4 separate regions of the Homo sapiens genome follow, and all the other regions are linked to region 1. Evidence: fine-mapped expression QTL. A gene starts in region 1. Each other region holds a variant in brackets. All regions are shown on one strand. Distances are from middle to middle. Region 1 holds the start of ADAT1 (adenosine deaminase tRNA specific 1). Region 2 holds the start of KARS1 (lysyl-tRNA synthetase 1). Region 3 overlaps ADAT1 (adenosine deaminase tRNA specific 1). Region 4 overlaps TMEM231 (transmembrane protein 231).

Region 1 (5,334 bases):
AAAGTCCCCATTTCTCTTCAAACAGTTGCAGGCTCACAATTTGCTAACTGCTTTGCTGGGGTGAGCAGAAACAGGCGTGGTCTCAAACTTCATCAAGCATCTACACTTGTAAAGAAAATAGATAGTAATAAATCATCCTCCAAAATTGTATAAAATGGCAGCTCAGGTAAATGGTTTGAAGGAGAGGTCCACGGGGTGTTGAGAAGCTATAATGGACATGGACCTAGTTAGAGGAGGTTTCTCTGAGGACATGAGATCTGAAGGGAAGAAGGCTTTCCGTGGTATGGCAACAAGTGCAAAAGCCCTGTGGTAGGAAGGGACATGGAGACCAGTGAGAGTATAGAAGCCCAAAGAAATATGGCACCAGGTGAGGCAGGAAGGGGCTGGCCATGCAGGACTGTGAGCACTACTATGGGATTTTTGTCTGTATTTTAAGAGTACTGGGAAGCCAGTCGGGCATGGTGGCTCACGCCTGTAATCCCAGCACTTTGGGAGGTCAAGGCAGGCGGATCACTTGAGGTCTGGAGTTTGAGACCAGACTGACCAACAGGGTGAAACCCCGTCTCTACTAAAAATACAAAAATCAGCCGGGTGTTGTGGCATGTGCCTGTAATCCCAGCTACTGGGGAGGCTGAGGTAGAATTGCTTGCCCCTGGGAGGCGGAGGTTGCAGTGAGCCGAGATTGTGCCACTGCGTTACAGCCTGGGTAGGAGAGTGAGACTCCATCTCAAAAAAAAAAAAAGTACCGAGAAGGCATTCACTGAAGTATTATTTAAGCAGTAAATGTGTAGTAGTCACAAATCTGACACCAGATTTGCAGTTTGAAAAGATTAGTCTTGCTGCTCTGTGGAAAATGAATTGGAGTTAAGCAAGAAAAGGTGGAAATTCAGAGATGAGTGTAGCAATCCAAGAGGAATACGATAGTGGCTTTTACTAGCGTATTGGCATGCAAGTGGAGAGAAATGGATGGATTCAAGAGATAGGAAGTAAGATCAACAGGACTTGGTAATGGATTGCACTAAGGGGATTAAGGGAAGGGAGATAACAAGGAACATGACTCACTTTTTAGTTACGCAACTAGATTGCTAGTAATACCAATCCCTGAGATAAAGAACCCTAGAAGAAGGTCTTTGATACCCCTTACCCCCACTGGAATATTTCTTAAAAGACAGAAGAGGCAGTCACTTGCAGATTAAAGATATTGGAGAGGAATGAGGAGCAAAGTCTTTGGCCTTGGAGGAGGGCCATGTCCCATTTCCTTTGAACTAGAGAGAAGGATGGGGTTGAGCAAGTTGCATAAATTTTTGAGGGGTAACAAAGAAAAATGAATTCTTTCATTTTTAGTAATAGAGCATTCAGTTACTGGGTGACAAAGGCCCCTGAAGTATCCAGGCAGCTATATTACTTATTCCCGGCAATCCAAAGGTTTTTAGACCTGTTCTGCCCACTACACTGTAGTAGTACTGTACTACAGTAGCCAGTAGCCACATGTGACTATCCAGCATCTGAAATGTGGCTGATCCAAATTGGGATGTATTCTAAGTGTAACACACACCAGATTTCTTAAACTTCGCATTAAAAACAGAACAGAACATAAGTATTTTTTAAAATATTGAGACTCGGCAGCCAGGTGCGGTGGCTCACGCCTGTAATCCAGCACTTTGGGAGGCCGAGGCGGGCAGATCACGAGGTCAGGAGATCGAGACCATCCTGGCTAACATGGTGAAACCCCGTATCTACTAAAAATACAAAAATTAGCCTGACGTGGTGGCAGGCACCTGTAGTCCCAGCTACTCGCGAGGCTGAGGCAGGAGAATGGCGTGAACCTGGGAGGCGGAGCTTGCAGTGAGCAGAGATTGCGCCACTGCACTCCAGCCTGGGTGACAGAGCGAGACTCCGTCTCAAAAAAAAAAAAAAAAAAAAAAAAAATATATATATATATATATATGAGACAGACAGACCGACCCCGGGCATCGTGACTCACGCCTGTAATCCCAGCACTCTGGGAGGTTGAGGCGGGCGGATCACTTGAGGTCAGGAGTTCGAGACCAGCCTGGTAACATGGCGAAACCCCGTCTCTACTAAAAATAACAAAAATGAGCCGGGTGTGATGGCGGGCGCCTGTAATCCCAGCTACTTGGGAGGCTGAGGCAGGAGAATCGCTTGAAGCCAGGAGACGGAGGTTGCAGTGCGCCGAAATTGCGCCGCTTCCAGCCTGGGCGACAAAGCGAGACTCCATCTCAAAAAATTTTTTGATTATATGTTGAAATAATACTATTTGGGATGTATGGGTTAAATAAAATATATATGATTGTTTCTATTTTGACTTTTAATGAGGCTACTGGAAATTTTTAAATTACGTATATGGTTCGAATTATATATCTATTGGACAGTGATGTTACAGATAGAAATACAGCATAGTCAGGAGAATCGCTTGAACCGGGAGGCGAAGGTTGCAGTGAGCCGAGATCGCGCCTCTACACTCCAGCCTGAGCAACAGAGCAAGACTCCGTCTCAAAAAAAAAAAAGAAAAAGAAAAAAATTCAGCCGAGTGCTGCAAGATACGTCATTCTAGTTGAAGGAATATCTAAGCCAACAAGCGGCTCCCATCATCCGGTTTCACGCCTCTCTAAGACGCAGCCAGGGCTGCGGGACTTGAAGCGCGGGAATCTCGGCCCTGGCACCGACTCCCCGGAAAAACTACAGGGCCCGGCATGCACTGCGCGCCTCTGGGAGCGGGAGCCGAAAGGAACCGGCGCTTTGTGACGTCACGTCCGCCTTACCGGCGGATTAAGCTCGCTTTCTTCTAGGCGCGTTTCCTGAAGGTGGGAGGGGAGCGTCCGCGAGGCGCTGGGGCGACGGGGCAGGTTTATCCGGGCTAACTTTGCCGAGTCTGTTTTTGAGGGAAGAGGTTGTGAGGATCGTATCTTCCGGGACGCGTTTCACGTGGGAAGGCGCTCCACGCCTGGAACTGTCAGCAGCCGGCGCCTGAAGAGCTCCTGGCGCGGGGCCTCTGGCCTGGCAGCCGCAGGACCCAATGGATCAGGCGCTCACGCTGTTCTCACTGCATGGCTTCAGTGCCTTGCCTGGCACCTCCTATCCTGTAACTGGCCGACTCGGGGTCCCACCCAGGCTTCTCCAGCGGCCGGGAAGGGGCTCTGCTTCCGGAAGTGTTTAGGAAGGGAGCCAGCGTAAACCAGAGTCCCTTCCTCCAAGCATCGCTGAAGCCTTTTCTCCCCTGGCAGCCGACTTCCTTTTCTTTGGAAAGGACGTCAGTTTTTTTAGCTTGTTGAAACTGTTCAGAGATGCGGTCTTGTGGGCAAATAAATGCCTGTTTAGCTGAGCTGTTATTTTCAGCTAAGAAGTTCTTCAAGTTTTCAAGATCTAGGAGGGGGTGTAGGCTCGAATTATAATGGACCCAGTGTAGCAAAACATTTATTCATTTAAACAATTGTGCATGCTCATTCAGACGCACTACCTGAGTGAGATGATGCCGTTCTGGGCTGCTTCATCTTAAAGAGAGTCACTGTTTCTTCTGGCAACTTCTACCTGCCTTGCCTATCGAGGTTTGTGAATTGCACCTCTGGTTTAATTTCAGGTCGATGGCCAGGTGGTCTTCATAAACTATACTGCCTTGTGATGCCTCCCTAGAAATGAGAGGTGAGTCCCTTCCAAACGAGGATTCTAGGATCTCATGCTTTCTTTTCTTGACAAGGCTTGCCCTGGCCCTCTGACTTTCAAGTCACAGGGTCTCACTTCCTGCAGATTTTTGTTTTAAATCACTGTGGTCTGATTTACCAGTAGCATTCACTACAGTAGCGAGCCTGCACGTTGCGCTGCAGGGGATTCATAACAATACCATCTTTCAAAAGCTGCATGCACTGGAGCTCAGGAAAGCCTTTTTTGTTTTTTTGAGAGGGAGTCTCGCTCTGTCACCCAGCCTGGAGTGCAGTGGCACAATCTCGGCTCATTGCGACCTCCGCCTCCCGGGTTCAAGCGATTCTCCTGCCTCAGCCTCCCGAGTAGCTGGGACTACAGGCACGCGCCATCACGCCCGGCTAATTTTTTTGTATTTTCAGTAGAGACAGGGTTTCACCACGTTGGCCAGGCTGGCCTCGAACTCCTGACCTCAGGTGAGCCACCGCGCCCGGCCTTCAGTTTGGTTTTACAGTGCTTAGCTATGTCTATCACAAGCTCATCTTCTACTGGGAAGCTTTTTGTATAATTGAGTCCAAATGAGATCAGGATGTGCCTAGTGAGCATTGATAGGGCCAAGAGTGAGAGATTTCCCTGCAAAGTATCCTAGGGATCTGCTTGATGGTTTTTTAATTCATGGCTTTCTATGCCCATTACAGCCCTCCCCCTTTCACCCCCACCACCAGGTAGCTCAAGGCAAATTAACCAGGAAAATCATCAAATGTTATTTTTTGTAATAGTAATCACAGTTGACCTTAATTATGCTCAACATAGTAGCAATTGCTTTTTATAAGTATTACTTATTTAACCCTCACAGTAACCCTAAGTATTATTTAATCTTCACAATAATCTAAATAGGTTAGATACTATTGTTATCACTATTTTGACAGATGAGGAAACAGACCCAGCAAGGTTAAGTAGTCTATTCAGCATCACAGTTAATTTGTGGCAAAGCCAAAATTAGAACCCAGAAAGGGTGAATCCAAAGTCCACACCCTTAAGTAGAGCTCTATGAGAACACGTAACTGCTGAGAAACATTTCAGTGGGGATTTACTAGAGGGCGGTAGAGAAACACTCTGCTGTAGGGGAAAGGAGAAAAATAAAATGCCTGGAAAAAGAAGACAGATAAGAACATCTGTCCAGAAAGATAAACCTTATACAGTGAGGGTCTGCCCAAAGCAAGTGAGTCTGCAACCCTTTACATGCCGTTTCCAGTGAAAACTGGAGTAGTGAGGACATTTCCTTCTCGTGTCCTTTAATGTTGAGTAGAGGATGCAGACTCCTTAGAAATGTATCAGATATATAACATTAAGAAAAACTTGAAACAATAATTTTGGGGATTGGTAGAATTTGGGGTTTCTTTGATCTTTCATTAAAGATGAAAAGGGGGCAGGGAGATAGTAGAAGAAAATGATCCATAGAGTTCCAGATAGGGAAACCTCGGTCTGCTCCATTTGAAAGACTCGAAGCATGGATATGAGAGGCTGTAGCATCGTGCACTGGTTCTCCTTTCCGTACTTCTGATGGTTGTGGTTTTTGATCAAGGTCTCAATACCAGCTCAGACCATGTGGACCGCGGATGAGATTGCTCAGCTATGCTATGAACACTATGGGATCAGGCTGCCCAAGAAGGGGAA
Region 2 (5,000 bases), 25 kb before region 1:
CGGGCAGATCCCTTGAGCCCAGGAGTTCGAGACCAGCCTGGGCAACACGGCCAAATCCTGTCTCTACAAAAAAATACAAAAATTAGCTAGGTATGGTGACGAGTGCCTGTAGTCCCAGCTACTTGGAAAGCTGAGGTGGGAGGATCCACTGAGCCTGGGAAGTCAAGGCTGCAGTGAGCCGTGATCGCACTACCGCACTCCAGCCTGTGTGACAGAGCAAGACCCCATCTCAAGATATATAATAAAATTAAAATAAAATAAAAATAAAAGCAAGGCCATACATGATGACATACTTCACCCATACACATAGCCCTAACCTCATCTGCTATAATTAATTCTCCCTCCTACTCCATTAACAGCCACTCTGTTCTCTTTGTGGCTCCAAACACACCAGCCATACTCCCACCTAAGGGCGATTGCCCTGGCTTCTTCCTCTGCCTGAACACTCTTCCCCAGATATCCACCTGGGTTGCTCTTTCACTTCCTTCGGTCTCTGCTTAAACATCAGCTTATGAGAATGACCTTCTCTTATCATCCTATAGGAAAAACCTCCTCCCCAACCCTTACACTCTGAATTATTTTTCTCTATAGCCCTTACCACTCCCCAGCTAGCATGTTATAAGCTCCAGGACCACAGGGACTTTTATTTATTGTTATATTCCAGCAGGACCACAATGTCTGGCACTCAAATTTCTGCTGAATGAATGAAGCTGAAATGTCACTTTTACCAAAACAAAATTCCTACTAAGCATACTGAACAGGAGAAAAAGATTTTACTCCCCAGACTTCAAGTGTTAAATGGAGTAGTCATACAGGCAAAGAAAAGGTGGGAGGATTACGGAGGGGGAGGAGAAGCAGCATGCCTCTTTAAACAAAAGGGTCTATCGGTTTAAGTTATCAATGCCAGGTACGTCACCAAGTACATCTTAACAGACTCGTTCTGTATCCTAGACATACTGAACCCCAATTTTCAATTCAACTGCATTAAAAACTCACTTCACCTAAGCAAGACCAGGAAGAGACCTTCCAACTGCCGAGAACCTTCTTAAGTCCATAGGCATTCAGTTACGCCAGAGCATTAAAGTAAGTCTGGTACGCCTTTATACTGAATCTACCTGAACATAACAGCAATCTTTTTTAAAAAGGAGTCTGTGGAATATCTCTTAAAAGAAACACAAGAAGCCAGTTAGCCCGTGGGTAGCTGGTGGACAGGAAGGACGAGATAATTTTTTTTTTTTTTTGAGATGGAGTCTTGCTCTGTCACCCACGCTGGAGAGCAGTGGCGCAGTCTCGGCTCACTGCAACCTCCGCCCCCCGGGTTCAAGCAATTCTCCTGCCTCAGCCTCCTGAGTAGCTGGGACTACAGGAACTCTCCGCCACGGCCGGCTAATTTTTGTATTTTTAGTAGGGGCGGCATTTCGCCATGTTGGTCAGGCTCGTCTCGATCTCCTTACCTCAGGTGATCCGCCCGCCTCGGCCTCCCAAAGTGCTGGGATTACAAGCTTGAGCCGCCGCGCCCGGCCAAGAGAGAATTTTCTATATACTTTTTGTAACTTTTGAATATAGAACCATGTCAATATTCTAGTCAATGGTAAAGTAAATTAAAACTAGACCAAGAAGCTGGGTGTGATGGCTCACGCCTGTAATCCCAACACTTTGGGACACCGAGACGGGAGGATCGCTTGAGCCCAAGAGTTCGAGACCTGTCAGGGCAACACAACGAGACCCCCATCTCTACAACAATTTTTTTTTTAATTTAGCGGGACGTGGTGGCGCGGGAGTGTAGTTCCAGCTACTTGGGAGGCTGAAGCCGGAGATTCGCTTGAGCCCAGGAGGTCCAGGATGCAGTAGGTCGTGATCGCGCGGCTGCATCACAGCCTGGGCGACGGAGCGAGCCCCCACTCAAAAATTAAAAAATAAAAACGACGAGAGGCCAGACGTGGTGGCTCACTCCTGTAATCCCAACACTTTGGGTGGCCGAGGCAGGAGGATCGCTTGAGCTCAGGAGTTCAGACCAGCTTAGGTAACAGAGACCCATCGCAAAAAAAGAACAATAATAAACAACAAGGGAGCGAGAAGGCAAGAAAATGGTGCAAATTTACCCGGATGTCAACAGGGGGCGGGGCCAAGCGCTGCTACCGAAGATGCCAAGATGGACGCCAGGCAGCCAGGAGAAAGATCCCAACCCCACCCGCGCAGATATCCGCGAGGCCCCGCGCTCAGCCTCCTCACCCCCGCTATCCGCGGCCTCCGGGTCCTCCTCCGCCTTCCGCTTGAGCTTCTGGGAGGAGGGGCTCACCGGCGCGTCCCCCAGCAGGTACTTATGCTCCTGGCCCCGCAGGTGCTTGAGGTAGCGGTCCTTCAGGGACTGCCACGAGTGCTGCGTGAGCGAGCTCTTCTCCATCGCTTTCCACAAGGCGTTACCGGTGACGGAGCTGGGCGAGCGGGCATTTTCCTTCACGTAGGTAAGGATGGCTACGTCGTCCGCATCCGTGAAGGCGATCCGCCCGGCGTGCCGCTGCGGCTCCGGCTCCGCGGCGCCCTCGGCCAGGGCCCCGGGCTTTGCTTCCGAGCCGGTGTCCGCCGCCGAGGCGGGGCCCAGCCGATAGGCCTCCAGCTCCAGCCTCTCGTTGCGCTCCACGCAGTCCAGGATGTACTGCGTGGAGATGAAATCACCCGAGGCCTCGGCCAGCGCCTCCCCGGGCTGGGCCAGCAGCACGGCCCCGGGCTCCTGCACTCGGCACACGGTGCCGCCGCCGTGCAGGATGAGCGTCGACAGCCGACGCTTGGCCGGGCTGGGCCGCACGTAGAAGGACATGGAGCTGCCGTCGTCCCTCACGAACAGAGTCGAGGAATGGGTGGGCCCGTTGGGGTCTTTGCCCAAATCCATCGCCTCCGCCATGTCTGACGCCGAGCACTACTAGAAGAGCTACCCCCTC[G/C]CGAGCGCCTGGCACACAGAGCTCAACTGACTGAGCTGTCACCGCAGACGCCTCTGCCGCGAAGCGCAGCACTGGGCCTGCGCAGCAGCAGCCGCGGCGCATCGAGAGTGCCCGCCCCCTCTCCCCCGGAAGAGGTGGGGCTTCGCACCTTGACCTGGAAATTAACGTACTATCCTCCTTACTTTTGGGTCGGGCCCTCCGGGAAGATGGCGGCCGTGCAGGCGGCCGAGGTGAAAGTGGATGGCAGCGAGCCGAAACTGAGCAAGAAGTGAGTGTCGCTGCGAGTCTTTAAAGCCTTTGCGGTAGGAGAGTCTGGGCTGGGAAGCGCCGCGAGGTTCCCACCAAGGCTGCTGTGCCGGGGCCTTCTTGCCGGCTCTCGTGGGTACGCACATGCTGAGACGTGGTGGCTGCGCCCTGCAGACCACGTACCCCGGGATACCCCGGGCACGCCGGCTCCCCGTTCCCAGCTGGCACCGGCGGGATGCTCCCTATCATACTCCTAGAGTTAAGAGACTGTGGAGGAGGAACTAGGACGAGAACTAAGAGTTATCAGAAAAGAAAAGCGAAACTTCCTGCTTAGCTTCATCCTCCTTTCTGAGAAATGCATTCTTTTGTTGAGCCACTCAGTAAACGTGGAAGTTGGAGAAATGTTAAATACCCTAGCTTTTCAGAAAGACCTTCAAAATTTTCTGGGCCTCACTAAGGTCATTCTGAACGTTATGTATTAAAAGGGATCAGTTCTAAAACTGTCATGCATCTACCCGTATGGGTTATTCAGTAGATACCTGTGAGTATTAAGTGATCAACGTCTAACAGTAGAGACCATCTTAATTCAGCCTGATATCTTTGTTAACCACTCCCAAATCCCTGGAGTATGTAGGTTAACATAGATAAGTCAGGATTAGCCACCCTTTAACTGGCTGTCTTATATTCTCATTAGCGTTCCCCATTTGAACCACAGAACACAGGTAATTGAGTGTTTTATCATTGCTAGGAAGATGGTACATAGTACCATTCCAGAGGCATACGAGAGGGCTTAATCCCCGTGGCGCGCACTTGTTATCCCAGCTACTCGGGAGACTGAGGCAGGAGAATCGCTTTAACCCAGGAGGCGGAGGTTGCAGTGTGCTGAAGTCGTGCCACTGCACTCCAGCCTGGGAGACTTGAGGTAGTGGTCCTTCAGGGACTGCCAGAAGTGCTGCGTGAGCGAGCCCTTCTCCATCGCTTTCCCCAAGGAGTTACTGAGACGGAGCCAGACCCTGAATGAAAAAGAAAAGAGAAATGATGTTTCTTTTTTTTTTTTTTTAAGATGGAGTCTCGCTCTGTCGCCAGGCTGGAGTGCAGTGGCGCGATCTCAGCTCACTGCAACCTTCGCTGCCAGGGTTCAAGCGATTCTCCTGCCTCAGCCTCCCGAGTAGCTGGGATTACAGGCGTGTGCCACCATGGCTGGCCAATTTTTGTATTTTTAGTAGAGACAGGGTTTCACCATGTTGGGCAGGATGGTCTCAATCTCGTTACCTTGTGATCCGCCCACCTTGGCCTCCCAAAGTGCTGGGATGACAGGCGTGAGCCTGAGCCACCACCCCTGGCCTGATGTTTCCTTTTGTGTCCCTGGCTTTGTGCTTCAAATATCTTAGAAAAAGTATAAGAGAAATTGTCGAAGTTTATAGTTGGGTAGGACCTTAATATATTGTCCTTTATTAGAGCAATCCGATGGACTTCCATAAAAGTTTGGAACCTGGTCTTTGGACTGCTACCTTAGAGAAAATTGACTTGACTTTATTAAGTCAAATTTAATTGAATGTGGTATATCTGTGATATACGATCCTAAAGTTTAGTTCATTCTTTCAAACCACCTATGATAATCAATTACATTGAATTGAACTTTAGGACTGTATATCACAGGTGAAAGCACGGTTTCCAGTTCAGAGTGTGTTTTTAGGTAAACGGAAAAAACTGGTTAATTCCTCTTTACTGACTTTTTTTTTTTTTTTTTTTTTTTGGAGGCAGAGTCGTTGTTGCCCCGGCTGGATTGCAGCGGTGCGATTTCAGCCCACGGCA
Region 3 (5,334 bases), 23 kb after region 1:
GTTGACCACAAGTTCTTCTTTCCCCATAGCCCTATTTGCAGATACGTGCATGATCTGAGATGCAGAGGATGGGTAGTTTGGTGGTATAGAGTTATAAAAAACTAAGGATAGAACTGGGGCTTGGCCATTCCAGGCCCTCCTTTGATTCCACCTCTAGATGGAGATCACTGTGGAAATGGGAGTGCTCTAAGAGCAATATATTCTGTTACAAGTGTTACTCCTCTTTTCCTTTTGAACTTGCAGCTCCATGACTTAAATTGCTCTTCAAACAAAAATTCAAAGAACTTTAAAACCACTCTTGGGAACAGGTAGATGGGTGCAGTGACATTCTGACAGTGACCACCTAGATTTAGGTGAAGTTTCACAGGTGAAGGACACAGTTCCCACTAAACTGTCTTCATTTCAAACAACTACCACAAGTTAAGGAAAGCCCCAAACCACCCATACTTCTGACCAACTGGCTACAAATTTGAGTGTCTCCACTCCCCTTCACGTTCAGTCATTCACTAGAACATCTCTCAGAACTCAGAAAAGCACTATAGTTGCCATTAAAGTTTTATTATGAAGGCTACAGATCAGTACTAGCCAAAAGGAGAGAGATATAGGGTAAGATATGGGAGGGTCGCAAAGGCAGAGCTTCCATGTCCTCAGGACATATCACCTTCCCAGCACATTGCTGCGCATCACCAACTAGGAATCTCACTCAGACATCAGTGTCCAAAGTTTTTGTTGGAGTTTCATTAACTATTATGACTGATTGAATTATTGGCCACATGATGTGATTGAACTTAATCTCCAACCTCCTCCTCTCCCAAGAGTTCAAACTGATATCACGTGTCTCAGAGCCCTAATTCTCTACATGGTTGGTCTTTCTGGCATGGCCGGTATCATCCTGAAACTATCTCGGGGGCCCACCATGAGTCACCTGGTTAAACAGAAACTCACGTGTGATCAGCGAGATCTACCATGCAGGACAAAGACACTTGCAGAAACTCCAAAGCTTAGAGGCTCCCGGGAACTGGTGACAAAGACCAAGTGAATCCTTCATTATATGACAGTGGGGAAACTAAGGAGTAGCTAGAAACTTCTATATGAAGAGGCATCGCCATCATGCATACTGAAGTGATGGATCTGTGGTCAGTTGGCTTCTTTCTTGGGTTTCCATATATTCTATATGTCAAATCTGAATTTAGGTGAGGAGATACTTCTAAGGCAGAGTTTTGCTCCTGTTAACCAGGCTGGAGTGCAGTGGCACAATTTCAGCTCACTGCAGCCTCCGCCTCCCAGGTTCAAGTGATTTTCCTGCCTCAGTCTCCAGAGTAGCTAGGATTACAGGCACCCGCCACCACGCCCGGCTAATTTTTGGTATAGTTAGTAGGGACGGGGTTTCACCATATTGACCAGGCTGGTCTTGAACTACTGACCTCGGGCGATCCACCTGCCTCAGCCTCCCAAAGTGCCAGGATTACAGGCGTGAGCCACCGCCTGGCATGTATGTATGTTTGTTTGTTTGTTTGTTTTTGAGACAGGGTAGCTGAGACAATTAAGGGAAGTGTTGCATGTGACCAAGAGCCTGGTTTGTAGTAGGGTTTTGATAACTAGTAGTTACTGTATTTTTTTTTTTTTGAGACAGTGTCTTGCTCTGTCGCCCAGTCTGTGTAGTACAGTGGCACAATCGTAGCTTACAGGAACCTCCGCTTCCTGGGTTCAAGTGATTCTCCTGCCTCAGCCTCCCAGGTAGCTGGGACTACAGGTGCCTGCCACCACGCCCGGCTAATTTTGTATTTTTAGTAGAGATGGGGTTTCACCATGTTGGCCAGGCTGGTCTCAAACTCCTGACCTCAGGTGATCCGCCTGCTTCGGCCTCCCAAAGTGCTGGGGTTACAGGTGTGAGCCACCATGCCTGGCCTAGAAAACTTTTAAACCAAAAAAGTAGACAGTTGTTTTTATTTTATCTGATTCCACTAGGACCATAGAAACCTAGAATTCTGTTCATTCTTAACTGTTTTAATTCATGTTGCTTTCTCGTGAATTCCCTACAAAGGAGACAGAGTTGCTCTAGGAAAGTGTCAAAAGTCAAAATAAAAATGTAAAGATAAATCTCTAAATTTAATATTTTATTTGGGATACAAGAAATTCAAGACATACAGACTGGGTGGTCTTCAATATGTCTGAAGAACAAAGGGAAGGTTAGAGGTTTTATTTTTCAAAAAAGAAATGTAACATATTGTTGAAGAAGGTTCATTGACATGAGTAAAGTGAGGAGCTGCCAAGTGATGGCACTGGGTAAAACTATTCTTAAAGTCTGCAGCAGGTTGGTTCAGTAGCTGTTAGATAAAACTGGCAGGCAGTTTTAGCAGCCAGGCTTGCAGAGAATGCATTCTTGGAGCAATGTTATGCGCCCTGAGTGTTTTTTACCCCTGGCTTCTCAACTCTGTTTCAGTTGAGTATGACAAGAATAACGTAGTTTGTATGATCAACTTTCACAAAAGCATACTGAACTCCTTCTCTACCTAAGTCTCATTACAAGTCTGTCCAGTTGCTTGCTCAGGTGTCTGGTGGCCCCTGGGGTGGGCTATTCAATGAGAACCTGTGTATTTGGTGGCCTGTGTGCATTAGGGTGCAGAAGCTGGATACCTACCAGGAGTACAAGGAGGCTGCGTCCTCTTACCAGGAAGCCTGGAGCACACTCCGGAAGCAGGTGTTTGGATCCTGGATCAGAAACCCACCGGATTATCACCAGTTCAAGTGAGAAGGAAATGTTTGCTCTGGTAGCAGGACCCTTCATCCTGAACTGCCTTCCTCCACGCAGGACAAGTCTTAGCTTTTTTGGTAGTTAAATCAGGGAACATTCTTTCTGAGCTTTGCATCTCTGTTGTGTAATACAGATGGAATCTGGAACTTAGAGCAAGCTATACTTGATTGAAGTAGCTCTCTGCTAAAATGGCATCTCACTAATGACCTCACTATCTGACTTCCATTGTGTTTTATTGCTTCTCTAAAATATGAAATCAGAGTTTGGAACATGATGCTTTGAAAGTACTCTGCAGCAGCTCTGTTTTATGGGTTCCTACATTGATTCAGCAAATATTTATTGAGC[T/C]GAAATGATGTTTGACGCTCTGCAAGTTTTACAGCTTTGCCTAGCATAGCGAATATATATTTTGTATTCCCAGCCTTTCTTTCTTCAGGGAGCCATTCTTTTCCCATTCTTCAGTGATCCTGCTCTGTGCCTCAGACTTGGCTGAAGCTAACCTTACTCCCTGGCTCTAGGAATAGCCTGTGAGCCAGCCCTGGACTGCCCTGGACTTGTTCTCAGAGGTATCAGGAAAGGCTTTCTGTTTTGATCTGGAGCTGTAAGGGTCACATAATCATGGGACTGCCGGTGGCCATCTTTTCCTACTACCTAGAGAAAGCCAGCAAAGAATGAAGGCAACAAAGGAAACAGCCAAGAGAATCAAAGATCTAGTAACACTGTTTAGATGTCTCAATTATGTGAGACAGATTCCTGTTGTTATTTTGATTAAGCCTGTTTGTGTTGGTTTTCTGACTTACAATTGAAAGAGTTCTGTCCAAAAAGCCAAAAGGTGGCCAGGCTTGGTGGCTCAGGCCTGTAATCCCAGCACTTTGGGAAGCCCAGGCAGGCAGATCACTTGAGGTCAGGAGTTCAAGACCAGCCTGGCCAACCTGGTGAAACCCTGTCTCTACTAAAAATGCAAAAACTAGCCGGGCATGGTGGCGCACACCTGTAATCCTAGCTACTCGGGAGGCTGAGGCAGGAGAATTGCTTGAACCCAGGAGGCGGAGGTAGTGGTGAGCAAAGATCGTACCGCTGCACTCCAGCCTGGGTGATAGAGCAAGACCCTATCTCAAAAAAAAAAAAAAAAAAAAAAAAAGAAGCCAAAAGGCCCTGCAGCAAATCAGCAATAGACCCAGCAGCCAATCCTGTTTTAACATCGAATGTTTAACACTCAACTTCAGACCTTGAATGATTGACTGAAAATGGAAGCTCCCATGTTGGGGTTACTCAAGGTCCTTATTGGTTCTTCAGCATTTTGTGGCTATAAATATTTTTAAATAACAGTTGTATTGAGATATAATTCACAGACCATAAAATTCACCCAACTAAAGTATACATTTTAAAAGTTTTTAGGCCGGGCACGGTGGCTTACGCCTGTAATTCCAACACTTTGGGAGGCTGAGGCAGGCAGATCACCTGAGGTCAGGAGTTCGAGACCAGTCTGGCCAACATGATGAAACCCCGTCTCTGCTAAAAATACAAAAATTAGCCGGGCATGGTGGTGCACGCCTGTAGTCCCAGCTACTTGGGAGGCTGAGGCAGGAGAATCACTTGAACCTGGGAGGCGGAGGTTGCAGTGAGTCAAGATCATGCCATTGCACTCCAGCCTGGGTGACAGAGTGAGATCCTGTCTCAAAAAAAAAAAAAAAAAATTTTTTTAGTATATCCACAGAGTTGTGCAACCATCAATTTTAGAACATTTTCATCACAAATTTTGTGCCTGTAATAGTTTCCTAGAGCTGTTTCTTAACGAAGTACCACAAGCTGGGTGGCTTAAGACAACAGAAATGTATTCCTGGCCGGGTGCAGTGGCTCACGCCTGTAATCCCAACACTTTAGGAGGCCGAGGTGGGCAGATCACGACGTCAGGAGATCAAGACCATCCTGGCCAACATGGTGAAGCCCCTTTCTACTAAAAATACAAAAATTAGCCAGGTGTATTGGCGCACGCCTATAGTCCCAACTACTCAGGAGGCTGAGGCAGAAGAATCTCTCAAACCCAGGAGGTGGAGGTTGCAGTGAGCCAGGATCGTGCCACTGCACTCTAGCCTGGGTGACAGAGCAAGACTCCATCTCAAAAAATAAGAAGAAAAGACTGTATCCCCTTTCAGTTCTGGAGGCTAGAAGTCCAAACAGGTTGTTGGTGGGGCTTCTGCTTCCTCTAAAAGCTTTAGGGCAGGGGCCCCCAGCCCCAGAGCCACAGACCATTACTTGTCTGTGGCCTGTCAGGAACAAGGTCACACAGCAGGAGATAAGTAACAGGTGAGCACTTGAAGTTTCATCTGTATTTATGGCTGCCCCCCATCGCTCACATTTCTGCCGTAGCTCCTCCTCCTGTCATACCAGCAGTGGCATTAGATTCTCATAGGAGCGTGAATCCTATTGTGAACTGTGCATGCAAGGGATCTAGGTTGCACACTCCTTATGAGAATATAATGCCTGATGATCTGTCAGTGTCTTCCATAACCCCCATATGGGACTGTCTAGTTGCAGGAAAACAAGCTCAGGGCTCCTACTGATTCTACCTTATGGTGAGT
Region 4 (5,334 bases), 74 kb after region 1:
ATGCCCAGCTGAATTTTTGTTTTTTGTTTTTGTTTTTCTTTTAATGCTGTATCACCAACATGTTTGATGGCACAAAGGACAAAGTTGCATAGAAAAGTATGGGTTGTTGACTGAGTTAAAGTGTTACTCAAAAGGATGAGGATGTAAAGAAGTTTTAGGAATCCCTGAATCAATTTATTTTGCCTATATTTTTCTTTCTTTTCTTTTCTTTTTTTTTTTTGAGATGAAGTCTCACTCTGTTGCCCAGGCTGGAGTGCAGTGGCGCAATCTCTTCTCACTGCAACCTCCGCCTCCTGGGTTCAAGCGATTCTCCTGCCTCAGCCTCATGAGTAGCTGGGATTACAGGCAGGCACCACCACGGCCGGCTGATTTTTGTATTTTTAGTAGAGACGGGATTTCATCATGTTGGTCAGGCTGGTCTCGAACTCCTGACCTCAGGTGATCCACCCACCTCGGCTTCCCAAAGTGCTGGGATTACAGGCGTGAGCCACTGCCCCGACCTATTTTGCTTATATTTTTCTAAGTAAATAAACATATCTGTGTAAATATGTCTAAATCTAAAAGCTCTTTTAGTAACTTTTTAAAAAGTAAGTGATTAGAAAAGTGTCATAGTTTAATTGGAAATGTTTTTCTTTTATCAGTGGTATATAAAATAATGGTTCATTTTATAAGTAATGGTATCTTAGATTGAAATACAAGGCTGAGCACTGTGGCTCATGCCTATAATCTCAGCACTTTGGGAGGCTAGCCCCTTGAGCTCAGGAGTTCCAGACCGCCTAGGCAACATAGTGAGGCCCTACTATAAAAAATTTAAAAATTAGCCAGGGGTAGTGGTGAATGCCTATAGTCCCAGCTACTCAGGAGGCTGAGGTGGGAGGATCACTTGAGCCTGAGAGGTCAAGGCTGCAATGAGCTGTGATCGTGCCACTGCACTCTAGCCTTTTTTGACCCTGTATCAAGAAAAAAAGAAATAGAAAAAAAAAGAAATACAGGTAGAAAGGTGGAAAGGAACCACGAAGTGGCAGTTTCTGCTTTGCTAGAGACCCACAACTGGTGCCAAAGAGTATTTTTAGCTTAAAAAGAAAGGAGCACCCGGTGATGACAAGTATATGGTGAAATAGACACTGGTATAAACTAGGAAATTAACCTTTAATAAAAGAATATGGGCCGGGCGCAGTGGCTCACGCCTGTAATCCCAGCACTTTGGGAGGCCGAGGCGGATGGATCACCTGAGGTAGGGAGTTCTAGACCAGCCTGGCCAACATGGTGAAACCCCGTCTCTACTAAAAACACAAAAATTAGCCGGGTGTGATGGCAGGTTCCTGTAATCCCAGCTGTTTGGGAGGCTGAGGCACGAGAATTGCTTGAACCCGGGAGGCGGAGATTGCAGTGAGCTGAGATTGCACCACCCATACTCCAACCTGGGCAACAGAGCCAGACTGCATCTCAAAAAAAAAAAAAAAAGAATACGACTTAAATGAATGAAATGTACGCAAACAAAACAGAAACCAAACAAAATTCCAACAAACCGTCAGATGCTGGGAATTCCTGACGGGGAAAAAAGTCACACATCAGGATACTCTGGAAACAATGGCACTTGAATTTCTGGCAATTCCTGCAGTCAGGTGGTGTGCTGGTTATGAGGTATTGTCTCAGCTCCAAACCCACCCTCCTACGCTCAGCTTCCAGGTTCCTGCTGAGATGCTGGAAACCACCTTCTTCCCCTGCAGCTTCCTGTTAGGTTCTGCCAGTAGGAGGCATGATGAGCCTTGTTCTGGGAGTGCAGAAAAAAAGAAATGAAACCAGTCACCACTGCCAGGGTGAAGAACCACTGTGGATGCCACAAACAGGGACAACCAGCAAACAGGAAGGAGCAGGACGCCTCTCCTACCGGCTTCAAGGTTCCCTCTAGTGCATGCTTCCTCCAAGCTCAGAGGTCCTGGCCCCATCTGGGCCGCGGTCCCTTCTTGAAGTCTGAGGCTCAGCTCTTCGAGGCCTCTTCCCTGAACCTCTAAGTTCTATCAGTCCCACCCGCTTCCCCTTCTTCTCTAGTCCTAGGTGTGGGAAATGTTCCCTGCAGCTACTATCTCTGTGTTGCTGGGATATCCCCTTTTTACGTCTTCAGTCCTCTAATACCTATGGGACTATTTATTCCCTATGTTAAATTCCCTCTGGCCAGGTGCGGTGGCTCATGCCTGTAAT[C/T]CCAGCACTTTGGGAGGCTGAGGCGGGCAGATCACCCAAGGTCAGGAGTTTGAGAATAGCCTGGCCAACACGGTGAAACCCCATCTCTACTAAAAATGCAAAAATCAGCTGGGCGTAGTGGCGCACACCTGTAATCCCAGCTAGTCAGGAAGCTGAGGCAGGAGAATCACTCGAACCTGGGAGGTGGAGGTTGCGGTGAGTGGCGATTGTGCCACTGCACTCCAGCCTGGGCAACAGAGTAAGACTTCGTCTCAAAAAAAAAACAAAAAAATTCCCTCTGACTCTGCTCAGTACATGCGTGTGGATTTCATGTGTATCTCTAAAGGGTTATCCTCCTTTAACCATGAGAAATCTTTTCAGTTAGAGTTCTTATGAGCTATTATAGAAGAGCCCTGAATCAGGAGTCAGCAAACCAAGATCCTTGTCCCACAAGGTCCTAGTCCCAATTCTGTCACTGGGTTTCATAACCTCACCCTCAATTTATCTATCCATATACAGGGCATGAGAGTACCCACATCTCTCCTGGGATATGCAGAGGAATCACGTGGGACAATGAATGGATATAAAAATTGTTCCAAAGCCTGTATATACGTTGTAGATATAAGGTGGTGGTGTGATATGTGAATTCTCTTGGCTAAGTACCAGTTGGAGGTTAGATAGCGACCTAGAATTTGTGTTAAAGAAGTAGTAGCCTTTGAATGCCTGCCTTTGTTAGCTATTGCACATATGTTAAACTTACTTTCAACTAAATGGAATTAAATAATTGATTTATTCAGTGGTCCAAGTGATAACAGAGGAGCACAGCCAAACTTCGCCAGCCCCAGGAGGGTGAGAGTCCAGCTTGGTGACAGGTCATTTGTGGGAGACACATCCTTTCCATCGAAACTTCTCTCCCCCCTCTCTCCACCCTGCTCTCCTTCTCACCCACTCTGCCAGATGCATTGATCCCACGGGTACCCAGAGCACATGTACCTGATTAGCCTGGATCCCTCCTCTCTGAGATGTTCCTGCACCCCATCACTTCACTTCCTTCAGGACTCCAACAAGTTGGGTCATCCTGAATATTTAAAAATTTCTGTTAAATTCTTTTTGGGTTTTTTTGTTGTTTGTTTGAGATAGAGTCTTGCTCTGTCACCAGGCTGGAGTGCAGAGGCACGATCTCGGCTCACTGCAACCTCCACCTTCTGGGTTCAAGCGATTCTCCTGCCTCAGCCTCCCTAGTAGCTGGGATTACAGGTGCACGCCACCATGCCTAGCTAATTTTTGTATTTTTAATAGAGGCAGGGTATCGCCATGTTGCCCAGGCTGCTCTCGAACTCCTGAGCCCAAGCAATCCACCCACCTGGGCCTCCCAAAGTGCTGGGATTATAGGCATAAGCCACCACGCCTGGCCAATTTCTGTTAAATTTTACCTTCATTATTCTCTAATTTTAGCCTGCTTCATTTCTGTCAGCGGCACTTGTCACTGTTTTCTACATTGTCCATCGGGAATGTATGCCCCATTAGGATGGGGACTTTGTCTATTTTGTTTACCATTATAGTCTCATTATTTGAAATAGTGCCTGGCGTGTTTCCAAAAAGTACGTAACAGATCAATGAGTGAATTTAACAAGTAGACACTATTGATGGTGTTGTGCCAAATCTGTCCCCCGCGAACTTGGAATGGAAGGATGTGCACAGGCAAGTATACAGACGTAGATGCCTGGTGCTGCTGTTTTTCAGGAAGATTTGTCCAACCTGCTGTCTTCATTTGGAATTTTTAAAATAATTTTAGACATTTTGGTCCTAAAAAGAGGACCAGATTTGAAGTCACCTGATCTCAAATCCTGTCTTCACCATTACTTGCTGTACCTCTGATAAATGCCCTAATCTCACTCATCCTTGATTTTGTCATCTGTGTAATGGGAAAATACCTGTTCTGCCTGCCTGGGGCTTTACATTTATTGTAAAGATCAAAGGAAATGAGCTTTTCCCCCTCCCACAGTGTGTTGGAGTCTGGATTCTTCTGGCAGTTGTCTCCTGGCCACTATCCTCTGTTGCAAGTTGAGAAATGTGCTCTTTTCTTCCTGTCCAACCCTAAAGATCTAGAAGGTGTGGATCCATCACAGAGAGTTACATAAGATTTTCTACCCAGATCCCAATTGAAGAAAATCCACAGGAGACAAGGCAGGCTCTTTTATTTATTTTTTATTTTATTTTTTTGAGATGGAGTCTCGCTCTGTCACCAGGCTGGAGTGCAGTGGCAAGATCTTGGCTCACTGCAACCTCCAACTCCCTGGTTCAAGCGATTCTCCTGCCTCAGCCTCCTGAGTAGCTGGGATTACAGGCACGTGCCACCACTCCCAGCTAATTTTTGTATTTTTAGTAGAGACGGGGTTTCACCATGTTGGCCAGGATGGTCTCGATCTTCTGACCTCATGATCCGCAAGGCAGGCTCTTTTCATCCTACCTATAATGACTAGTCCATCATTGCCTCAGTAACTTGATCATCAGCCCTGGTAGCAGATATCCCTCCCCGAAGCTGATGAAACAGGGCAGAGAGGAAGTATCCAAGAGAAAAGGGAGGGAGGTTTCTCTAAAACAAGACCTAAGAGAAGGAACATTATTGTCTAGAAAGAAAGAAATAATTGAAAGTTTCTGAAAATTGAGATTTCTTCATTTCAAATGACCTTATTATTAGCCTGAAAAAGCACACACACAAAAAATCTCTTCCTTACGTAATAGTAATGGTGGGAATCAAAATGAATCCATAGATGGTGGATCCAGATGGGAATGCTGCTACACGATAGTAGAATTGTTCTGGGAATCCACAGTGGGAAAGGATCAGTTGTAGCAAAAAGATCCAGAGTTGTGCAGAGGGACCATGTCAGCAGTGATCACTTTTCAGTAACCGTGCTTTCCTGATCATCATTTTAGCATCACTGTTTGGCAAGACTGTGGATGGTAGGAGTGGATACCAGTTTTTTTTCACTGCCTACATATGCTTCATAAGCTGTATTTTGTCTTTTTTCCTCTACAGACCTCTGTCTTCTTTCCTTTCATGCCCGTAATTTATCAAATAGATATGGTTTTAATACTTTGCTGATTTGACATAGCTTCCTTTTTCATTTCATTGATTGCTACTAAAAGATG

The links. PIP is the estimated chance that this variant, and not a neighbour inherited with it, causes the effect.
Region 2: its variant is fine-mapped to the expression of ADAT1 in transverse colon (GTEx, PIP 0.99). The same link has a PIP of 0.9 or more in breast and coronary artery.
Region 3: its variant is fine-mapped to the expression of ADAT1 in esophagus muscle (GTEx, PIP 0.97).
Region 4: its variant is fine-mapped to the expression of ADAT1 in cerebral cortex (GTEx, PIP 0.90).

What each region holds. Positions count from the first base shown.
Region 1 is chr16:75,620,729-75,626,062 of GRCh38, reverse strand. It overlaps ADAT1 (adenosine deaminase tRNA specific 1), which reads left to right and starts at 2,782. Exons shown (of 10, transcript NM_001324445.2): 1 at 2,782-3,660; 2 at 5,243-5,334. The coding sequence starts at 5,264. RefSeq lists enhancers at 2,469-2,988, 2,868-3,107, 2,989-3,508, 3,509-4,028, 4,029-4,549 and a silencer at 4,618-4,912.
Region 2 is chr16:75,645,785-75,650,784 of GRCh38, reverse strand. It overlaps KARS1 (lysyl-tRNA synthetase 1), which reads left to right and starts at 3,120. Exons shown (of 14, transcript NM_005548.3): 1 at 3,120-3,207. The coding sequence starts at 3,146. It overlaps TERF2IP (TERF2 interacting protein), which reads right to left and starts at 3,012. Exons shown (of 3, transcript NM_018975.4): 1 at 2,233-3,012. The coding sequence starts at 2,902. RefSeq lists enhancers at 477-556, 1,135-2,090, 1,888-2,157, 2,091-3,048, 3,088-3,267 and a silencer at 2,468-2,587. The variant G/C (reference allele first, on the strand shown) is at 2,940.
Region 3 is chr16:75,597,634-75,602,967 of GRCh38, reverse strand. ADAT1 (adenosine deaminase tRNA specific 1) reads left to right here. Exons shown (of 10, transcript NM_001324445.2): 10 at 2,620-5,334. The coding sequence ends at 2,752. Among named protein-coding and RNA genes, the nearest start is that of ADAT1, 23 kb to the left of the region's middle. The variant T/C (reference allele first, on the strand shown) is at 3,101.
Region 4 is chr16:75,546,848-75,552,181 of GRCh38, reverse strand. The region is part of intron 2 of TMEM231 (transmembrane protein 231); the gene reads left to right. Among named protein-coding and RNA genes, the nearest start is that of TMEM231, 6.7 kb to the left of the region's middle. RefSeq lists enhancers at 1,834-1,893, 1,934-2,003. The variant C/T (reference allele first, on the strand shown) is at 2,203.